2 separate regions of the Homo sapiens genome follow, and region 1 is linked to region 2. Evidence: fine-mapped expression QTL. A gene starts in region 2. The other region holds a variant in brackets. All regions are shown on one strand. Distances are between the middles of the regions. Region 1 has its middle 25 kb from the start of RAB32. Region 2 holds the start of RAB32 (RAB32, member RAS oncogene family).

Region 1 (4,261 bases), 25 kb after region 2:
CTACCTGCTGCCATGTAACACGTGCGTTTTGCCTTTCACCATGATTGTGAGGCCTCCCCAGCCACGTGGAACTGAGTCTATTATTTCTTTACAAATCACCCAGTCTTGGACTTGTCTTTCTCAGCAGCATGAAAACAGACTAATACACAGTCCCAACCTCCAGTACCTCAGAATGTGATCTTATTTGAAAATAGCGTGGTTTTTTAATGATCACCATTCTAACTGGTGTGAGATGGTATGTCATTGTGGTTTTGATTTGCATTTCACTGATGGCCAGTGATGTCATGAAACAACAGGTGCTGGAGAGGATGTGGAGAAATAGGAACACTTTTACACTGTTGGTGGGACTGTAAACTAGTTCAACCATTGTGGAAGACAGTGTGGTGATTCCTCAAGGATCTAGAACTAGAAATACCATTTGACCCAGCCATCCCATTACTGGGTATCTACCCAAAAGATTATAAATCATGCTGCTATAAAGACACATGCACATGTACATTTATTGCGGCACTATTCACAATAGCAAAGACTTGGAACCAACCCAAAAGTCCATCAATGATAGACCGGATTAAGAAAATGTGACACATATACACCATGGAATACTATGCAGCCATAAAAATGATGCGTTCATGTCCTTTGTAGGGACATGGATGAAGTTGGAAACCATCATTCTGAGCAAACTATCGCAAGGACAGAAAACCAAACACCACATGTTCTCACTCACAGGTGGGAATTGAACAATGAGAACACCTGGACACAGGATGGGGAACATCACACACTGGGGCCTGTTGTGGGGTGTGGGGAGGGGGGAGGGATAGCATTAGGAGATATACCTAATGAAAATGATGAGTTAATGGGTGCAGCACACCAACATGGCACATGTATACATATGTAACAAACCTGCACATTGTGCACATGTACCCTAGAACTTTAAGTATAATAAAAATAAATAAATTAAAAAATTACAGTGTTAGTAGACCCCTCCTAAAAAAAAAGAAAATAGGGTGGTTGCAGATGTAATTAGATAAGATGGGGTCATACTCATGTAGCTTGGCCTCCTAATATAATATGACTGATGTCCTTACTAAAAGGTGGCTATTTGAAGACATAGATAGGGAGAACATGTGAAGACAGAGGATTAGAGTGATTCAGCAACAAATCACTTGTCAGATTGCTGACAAACCACCATAACCTAAGAAAAGGCAAGTATAAAATTTTCTGCAGATTTTTGGGGAAGCGTGGTCTTGCTGACATCCTTTGTCTTGGACTTCTAGCCTCCAGCACTTTGAGACAATACATTTCTGTTGTGATACTTTGTTGCAGTAGCCCTAGAGAATGAATACATCCCCAACACCAGCTCTGCTTCTTTTATAGTTCAGGAAAAATGCTGAAGTGGAAAAATATATCACAAAAACTAAGGTTAAATTAGAAGCAGTACGAAAGAGAATAGACTATTGAAAACACAGTAAGTGATAGAATGGTGCTATAGTTTGAATGTCTCCTCCAACATTCACATTGAAATTTAATTTCCAATATAACTGTATTTGGAGGTGAGGCCTTTAAGAGGTGATTAGGTCATGATGGCTTGTCATCATTACAGGATGGGTTAGTTATTGCAACACTAAGATTGTTATAAAAGAGAGTTTGTCCTGATTTCTCCTCTCTCTCTCTCACACACACACACACACACACACACACACACACACACACACACACGGACTCACTTCTCCTTTCCACCCTTTGGCCATGTGATGATGCTTCTCTCTCTTCTCTCTCTTTCTCTCTCTCTCTCTCTCTCTCACACACACACACACACACACACACACACACACACACACATGGACTCACTTCTCCTTTCCACCCTTTGGTCATGTGATGATGCTTCTCTCTCTTCTTTCTCTCTCACACACACACA[C/A]ACTTGCTTCTGTCTTCCACCCTTTGGCCATGGGATAATGCTTGTCATGCTCATAGGCTTCCCACCCTTTAAAACTCTGAGCCAAATAAACTTCTATTGTTTATAAATTACCCAGTCTGTGGTATTCTATTGCAGCAGCAGAAAACAAACTGAAACAGATGAAAAAGACACAGTAGCGCAATGCAAACAAACCAAAAAACAAGCACAAATATCAAACAAGGAAGATAGCAAAGACTTGGAACCAACCCAAATGCCCATCAATGACAGACTGGATAACGAAAATGTGGCACATGTGCATCATGGAATACTATGCAGCCATAAAAAAGAATGAGTTCATGTCCTTTGCAGGGACATGGATTAAGCTGGAAATGATCATTCTCAGCAAACTAACACAGGAACAGAAAACCAAACACTGCATGTTCTCATCGTAACTGGGAGTTGAACAATGAGAACACATGTGCACAGGGAGGGGAACATCACATACTGGGGCTGTCAGGGGGTGGGGGTAAGGGGAGGGATAGCATTAGGAGAAATACCTAATGTAGACGACGGGTGGATGGGTGCAGTAAACTACCATGGCACATGTATATGTATGTAACAAACCTGCACGTTCTGCACATGTATCCCAGAACTTTAAGTATAATAAAAAATTTAAAAAAAATTAAAAACACTGATGAAAGAAATTTAAGCAGGCATCAATAAATTGAAAGATATCTCATGTTCATGGCATGAAACAATATTGCTAAAAAAAATGTTCATACTAGACAAAGCAATTGACAGATTCAATGCAATCTCTATCAAAATTACAATGGCTTTTTTTTTAGAGAAGTAGAAATAACAATCCTAAAATTCACTGGAACTCCGAAACATCCCAAATAGCCAAATAAATCTTGAGAAATAAGAACAAAGCTGGAGACAGCATCTTTTCTTATTTCAAAATTAAAACAGCATGGTACTGGGATAAAGACAGACACATAGACCAATGGAACAGAATCAACAGCCTCAATGAAGTCAGCAAGATGCAACCTAGAGTTAGCCAGTACTCACCCTCCTCACAAAAAGAAACTGAAGTAACAAACAAACAACTATATTTTGACTAGACTGGCTGAAGAAGTATGCTGGAGAGCACCAGGGGAGTGTCAAATTCTCTGTGGAGCCCAGAAGCCCAGGATAGCACCAGAGAGAGGACAGTGAGGCCTTCCGCCCCTGCCTCACTCTCTCTCCCACCAGAATCAACTTAGCGTCAGGAGGGAGTTCTTACTGGGAAAAGTTGAGCTGTGGATGTCTGGCAGCCCCCGTTGCCACCAAATGCCAGCTATCCTTGTTAGAGTAAAGTCCCCCAATCTTCACAGGCACCAAATTCAGTTTGCAGATTAACCAGGAGCTCAGGCAGGTACATTGTCTCAGAGTAGAAGCCTACATTGGGCACTCATCACCCTTGTGACCTAAGCTTCTATAGGTTGGTGCTATCCTAAAACTGCACCCATTACTAAAAGGGCACCCTTTTCTAGGGGCTGGTGGCAACTGATTTTTTTTTCTATCCCTGAGGCCCCACCATCATTCCACCATGTTTACACAGGTGCCCGCAGCACCATGACTCCAGCTGTCCAGAGCCCAGGCCAGAAGGAATAATCAAGACTTTGGTATCCAAACCCATGTGATATACCCTGTCTCCAAGGAACAGGCAAATCTGCACAGTATGGGAGCTAACAAACAGCAGATCAGCTACTTTGTCCATACACACCCATGACCCACAGCCAGATGGCCTGCCAAGAATGTGTGCACCTGTACCTGGCCCAACAGCTGGTCCTATGGAAGACCTGCCCCCCAACAGATTGCCACAGAGCCTCCCAGGACTGCCATGCCTATGCATACCTAGCCTGACATCTAGTCTAGCTGTAGCCTTGCCTCTTTGGAGAAAGAACCACACAGCATCCCAGTTGGCCACATCCTTGTGCCCCCAAGCCTAGCCTGACAGGCATCTGGCAGCAGCCACCAACTCTACAGACAGCCCAGTGGAAGGCCAGTCAGTCTTCTGTGCCCACATGCAACCAGCCTGACAATGGGCCCAGAGCCTCTACCCCAGCAAGACCCCTCTACTGTCATCAAAAATTCCTACAGCCTAGACCACTGAGGCAATTGCAGACACTGCTGACAGGGATTACAGTGGAAGAAAAATGCATGGAAAACACACTATACACCCAAAAACAAAGCCATTACACTATATTAAACGAACACTCAAGGTCCCATCTACAAAAAAAAAAGTCTCTCCCCATGAAAACTACACTATAAAATTAATAAGGGTGACTATTCCACTAGATATGCAGATATCTACATAGGAACACA
Region 2 (4,261 bases):
CCACCACACCTGGCTGCAATTTTTTTTTAATGGTAACAGCACTTACAGTCTACTCTCTTAGCAAATTTCCAGTTTAAAATACAATATTATTAACTATAACGCTCATGCTACATTAGATCATTAGGACTCATTCATCCTATATAACTGCAACTTTGTACACTTTGACCTGCATCATTCCGTTTCTTCCCTGCCCCTGGTAACCACCACTGTTTCCACGTATTCCGTGTGTGTGTGTGTGTGTGTGTGTGTGTTTAAGATTCCACATATAAGTGATATTGCACAGTATCTTTCTTTTTGTGTCTGGCTTATTTCGCTTAGCATAATGTCCTCCAGGTTTATCCATGTTGTTGCAAATGTCAGGATCGCCTTCTAAAGGCTGAATGATATTCCATTGTGTGTGTGTGTGCGTCTGTGTATATGCGCGCGTGCATGCCTATGTATGTATTACAATTTCTTTATCCATTCATCGTTAACAGACACTTTGGTTGTTTCCAAATCTTCGCAACTGTGAATAATGCTGCATGAACTTGAGAGCGATTTCTGAGATCCTGATTTCATTTCCTTTGAGTATACACCCAGAAGAGGGATAGCTGGGTCACTGGCTTTAGCAACGATTTTTGCAATATCACACCAAAAGCCCAGGCAACCAAAGCAAACCTAGATAAATGGGACTTCATCCAACTAAAATGCTTCTGCACCGCATAGGAAATAATCAACAAAATGAAAAAACAGCCTATAGATTGGGAGAAAATATTTGTGAGCCATATATCTGATAAGGGGTTAATATCCAAAATACATTACGTTCACAGAACTCAGCCAAAATAAATAAATAAAACACCCAGTTAACTAACGGGCAAAGGATGTGAATGGACTTTTTTTTTTTTTCCAGAGGAAGTACAAATTGCCAACAGGTATAAGAAAAGGCGCTCAAAATCACTAATGAACAGGGAAAAGCCACTAGGTATCTCCTCACACCTGCTAGGATGACTGTTATAAAAAAGATAAGCGATAATAAGTGTCGGTGATGTGCGGAGCAAAGGGAACCTTGTACACTGGTGGTGGGAATGCGGACTGGAACAGCCATTATGGAAAACCCTACGGAGGTTCACTCAAAAAGTTAAAAACAGAACTACCAGCCCAGTGTTATCCGTCCTTCGTTAAGTTCAAAGTCACGGTGCCACTTCCTTTCCCATCTAAAGGGGACTGCTCGCGACCCAAGCCAAGGCCCGCAAGTGTGGCTCTCCCTGCGGGGAGAGTAGGGCAGGAGGTGGATTTCCAGGCCAGAGGCTTCCAGGCTGGGCCCGGACCCCACGCCGACCCCGGCCCCGGGGGGGGCTCAGCGACCTCGGCGCCTCCTCAGGCCCCCAGTGAACCTCCGGGGCCCATAAAGGCTCCAGGCCGGCTCCCCGGAGGCCCACCAGCGGGCGTCTGGGCCTCCCTCCGCGCCGCGACCGCCAGGAGGCGCCGCCCGGGAGAGGAAGTCCAGCTGGGCCCGGCCGGGCTTCGGAGGCGCCGCCCGGGAGAGGAAGTCCAGTTGGGCCCGGCCGGGCTTCAGAGGCGCAGGGCGGGAGCCGCCTCGCGCAGGGTCCTCCCCAAGCCGGCGCCAGGCCCTGCCCTCGTCCGGCCCTGCCCTCGTCTGGCCCCGCCCGGGCCGCGAGCACTGGCGGGTTCTGGGTCCTGTGACCGGTCAGGCGGCGTCAGCGGGCGCGGCGGAGGGCTGGCCGGCCTCGGGGGAGTTTCCGCGGCCGCCGGGGGCGCGGCGGCAGAGCGCGAGGCCGGGCAGGGGGCCAGACTCGGAGTCGAGGCGCGCCCGACAGCCGCAGCGCTCATGGCGGGCGGAGGAGCCGGGGACCCCGGCCTGGGGGCGGCCGCCGCCCCAGCGCCCGAGACCCGCGAGCACCTCTTCAAGGTGCTGGTGATCGGCGAGCTTGGCGTGGGCAAGACCAGCATCATCAAGCGCTACGTCCACCAGCTCTTCTCCCAGCACTACCGGGCCACCATCGGGGTGGACTTCGCCCTCAAGGTCCTCAACTGGGACAGCAGGACTCTGGTGCGCCTGCAGCTGTGGGACATCGCGGGTAAGCGCGGCCGCGAGTTTCCCACTCCAGAGCCCCGCCGGGCCGCCTGGCTCCTCTCTGCTTCTTTTCTTTTTCTTTTCTGCCTGAACTCGTCTGCCTGGGTACCTTTAGGAGAAGAGAGAGGCCCAATCCAAGGGCGAGATGCGATGGACGCGGTCGGCTGGACTCGGTGGGGCCCAGAGGATGGGATGGGCAGTAGGAGTTGGAGCAGGTCCTGCACGCCAGAGCTCGCTCTCCTGAAGGGAGGCGAGGAGGCCAGGGGGCCTTTTCCAGAAGTTTGAACTCTGAATAATGCAAGTATATCATACATACACCAGGACTAGTTGAGAAGGCTGCTTTGGAGCGGGCCGGCGCCTCTCAGCCTCAACTCAAGTTCAGAGGGATTGGGTGACTTAACCCGAAGCTGCACTCCTAGTTAGTGACACCACCAAGACCAAAAGCCAGGTTCCTTTCCAGATCATTTTCCACCACCCGCCTTGGCTCTGAGACTGGCCTTTGTGAGGGAAACTCCATTCCTCAAATACTTTGCTCTCATCGGAAGCCGAGGACAGACACTCCGTGAAGATTTGGGAAAGCTTTTCTGAAACCTTACACTCACCCCTTCCTCTCTTGCTAAACCAACACCTAGTCCCATCCCTGGTGCCCTCGCCCCCCCCCGCCCCCCCCCCACTCCTCAATACAGTGTTTCTCTGCCATTTGCTTTCATTTGTTCTGTTTGAGGGGGTACATTTCCCTCTGCTCTGATTTATGAACACTTGAACTTTGCCTGGTGTGGTGGTTGGGAGTGGGCGTTTTAAAGATGATGTTAACTATTGGAAAGTTCATAGAAATGGTACCAAGCCAAGTGCCAGTGGCTCACGCCTGTAATCCCAGCACTTTGGAAGGCCTAGACTGGAGGATCGCATGAGCACAGGAGTTCGAGACCAGCCTGGGCTGTTAGTGAGACCCTGTCTCTACAAAATACATACATACATATATACATACATACATACAAAAAATTAGACAAGTGTGGTCGTGCGTGCCTGTAGTCCCAGCTACTCAGGAGCCTGAGGCAGGAGGATCACTTGACCCTAGGAGAGGTCAAGGCTTCAGTGAGCTGTGTTCTCACTGCTGTACTCCAGCCTGGTCAACAGAGTGAGACCCTATCTCAGAAAAAAAAAAAAAAAGTACGAAAATTACTCTGTTCAATCATTACAGGTGTTAAGAAGCACAGTCTGCAGTACAGCATTAGAATGGGAGCTGGTTTAGGGTTAGAGGACACCTGAGGCCACCCTTCATTCTACAGTCCCTACACTGAAGCCCATGGAGGGTATAGCTACCTGGCTGGTAGCAGAGTGGTTGGGGGGATCACAGGTCTACTGTCTGTCTGCCAGGTAGTGCTCTTGTCATTTATAGCTTGTTACATAAGAAAGAGTAGTAAATAATTGTAACCTATAACTCATTCATTTAAGAGCACATTTCTGTCCCTCAGACAGGAGAATAACTGTATGCAACTCAGTTGCTCAGAAAAAAGGAGTAATCAGCCAGGGACTCAGCTTTTTGTTGTTGTTTTTTGTTACCAAAAACCAAAAGTTCGTTTGAAAAGTCATCTTTGAAGCCAGAAGTTTTTTCGAAACACTTCCTGCCGTTGCACAGAACCCTAATGAGCAGTATTTCTGCTTCTTGACAAAGTCATGGATTCTAAAGGTTGCCTTACCATGTGACGGTCATTCTCCAGGAATCTGCAGCATAGCTGAGGTTTTTCACAAAGATGGTTTTAAAACCTTGCTTACAAGGGTGATTGACCTTGCCTTACTCTTTATGTAAATTATGGCATTTTGTTATTAAACTACGATTGGGTCCCACTGCTGGTAAATCAGTATGAGTAACTAGATTTTTAAGTGTTTATAGTTAGAAACTTGAGAAAGTAAAAGCAGGAGTAAGATACAAATTTTCTTTCTGGTATCACCTCTTCTTTTTTTATTAATCACAGACCTCGAATGACAGGAAGGGGTCATATCTAGTTTTTTATCAGACTCTGATAAACATCTGCCTAGATGGGATATCCTTGTACTTTTCACTAAATCCAAAGCTTGAGTTTTGCCAGGAAGGAAAACAAAAGTTTAAGATCTCCAAAAGGGATTTCTGGATGTTAGATATTGTTTCAACAGGTATTGTTGTCCCATACAGCAAGTACAGACCAG

The links. PIP is the estimated chance that this variant, and not a neighbour inherited with it, causes the effect.
Region 1: its variant is the best candidate, but not a certain one, in a credible set for the expression of RAB32 in whole blood (TOPMed, PIP 0.68).

The regions. Positions count from the first base shown.
Region 1 is chr6:146,566,604-146,570,864 of GRCh38, forward strand. No RefSeq gene overlaps it. Among named protein-coding and RNA genes, the nearest start is that of RAB32, 25 kb to the left of the region's middle. The variant C/A (reference allele first, on the strand shown) is at 1,916.
Region 2 is chr6:146,542,044-146,546,304 of GRCh38, forward strand. It overlaps RAB32 (RAB32, member RAS oncogene family), which reads left to right and starts at 1,790. Exons shown (of 3, transcript NM_006834.5): 1 at 1,790-2,078. The coding sequence starts at 1,829. RefSeq lists a silencer at 1,364-1,743.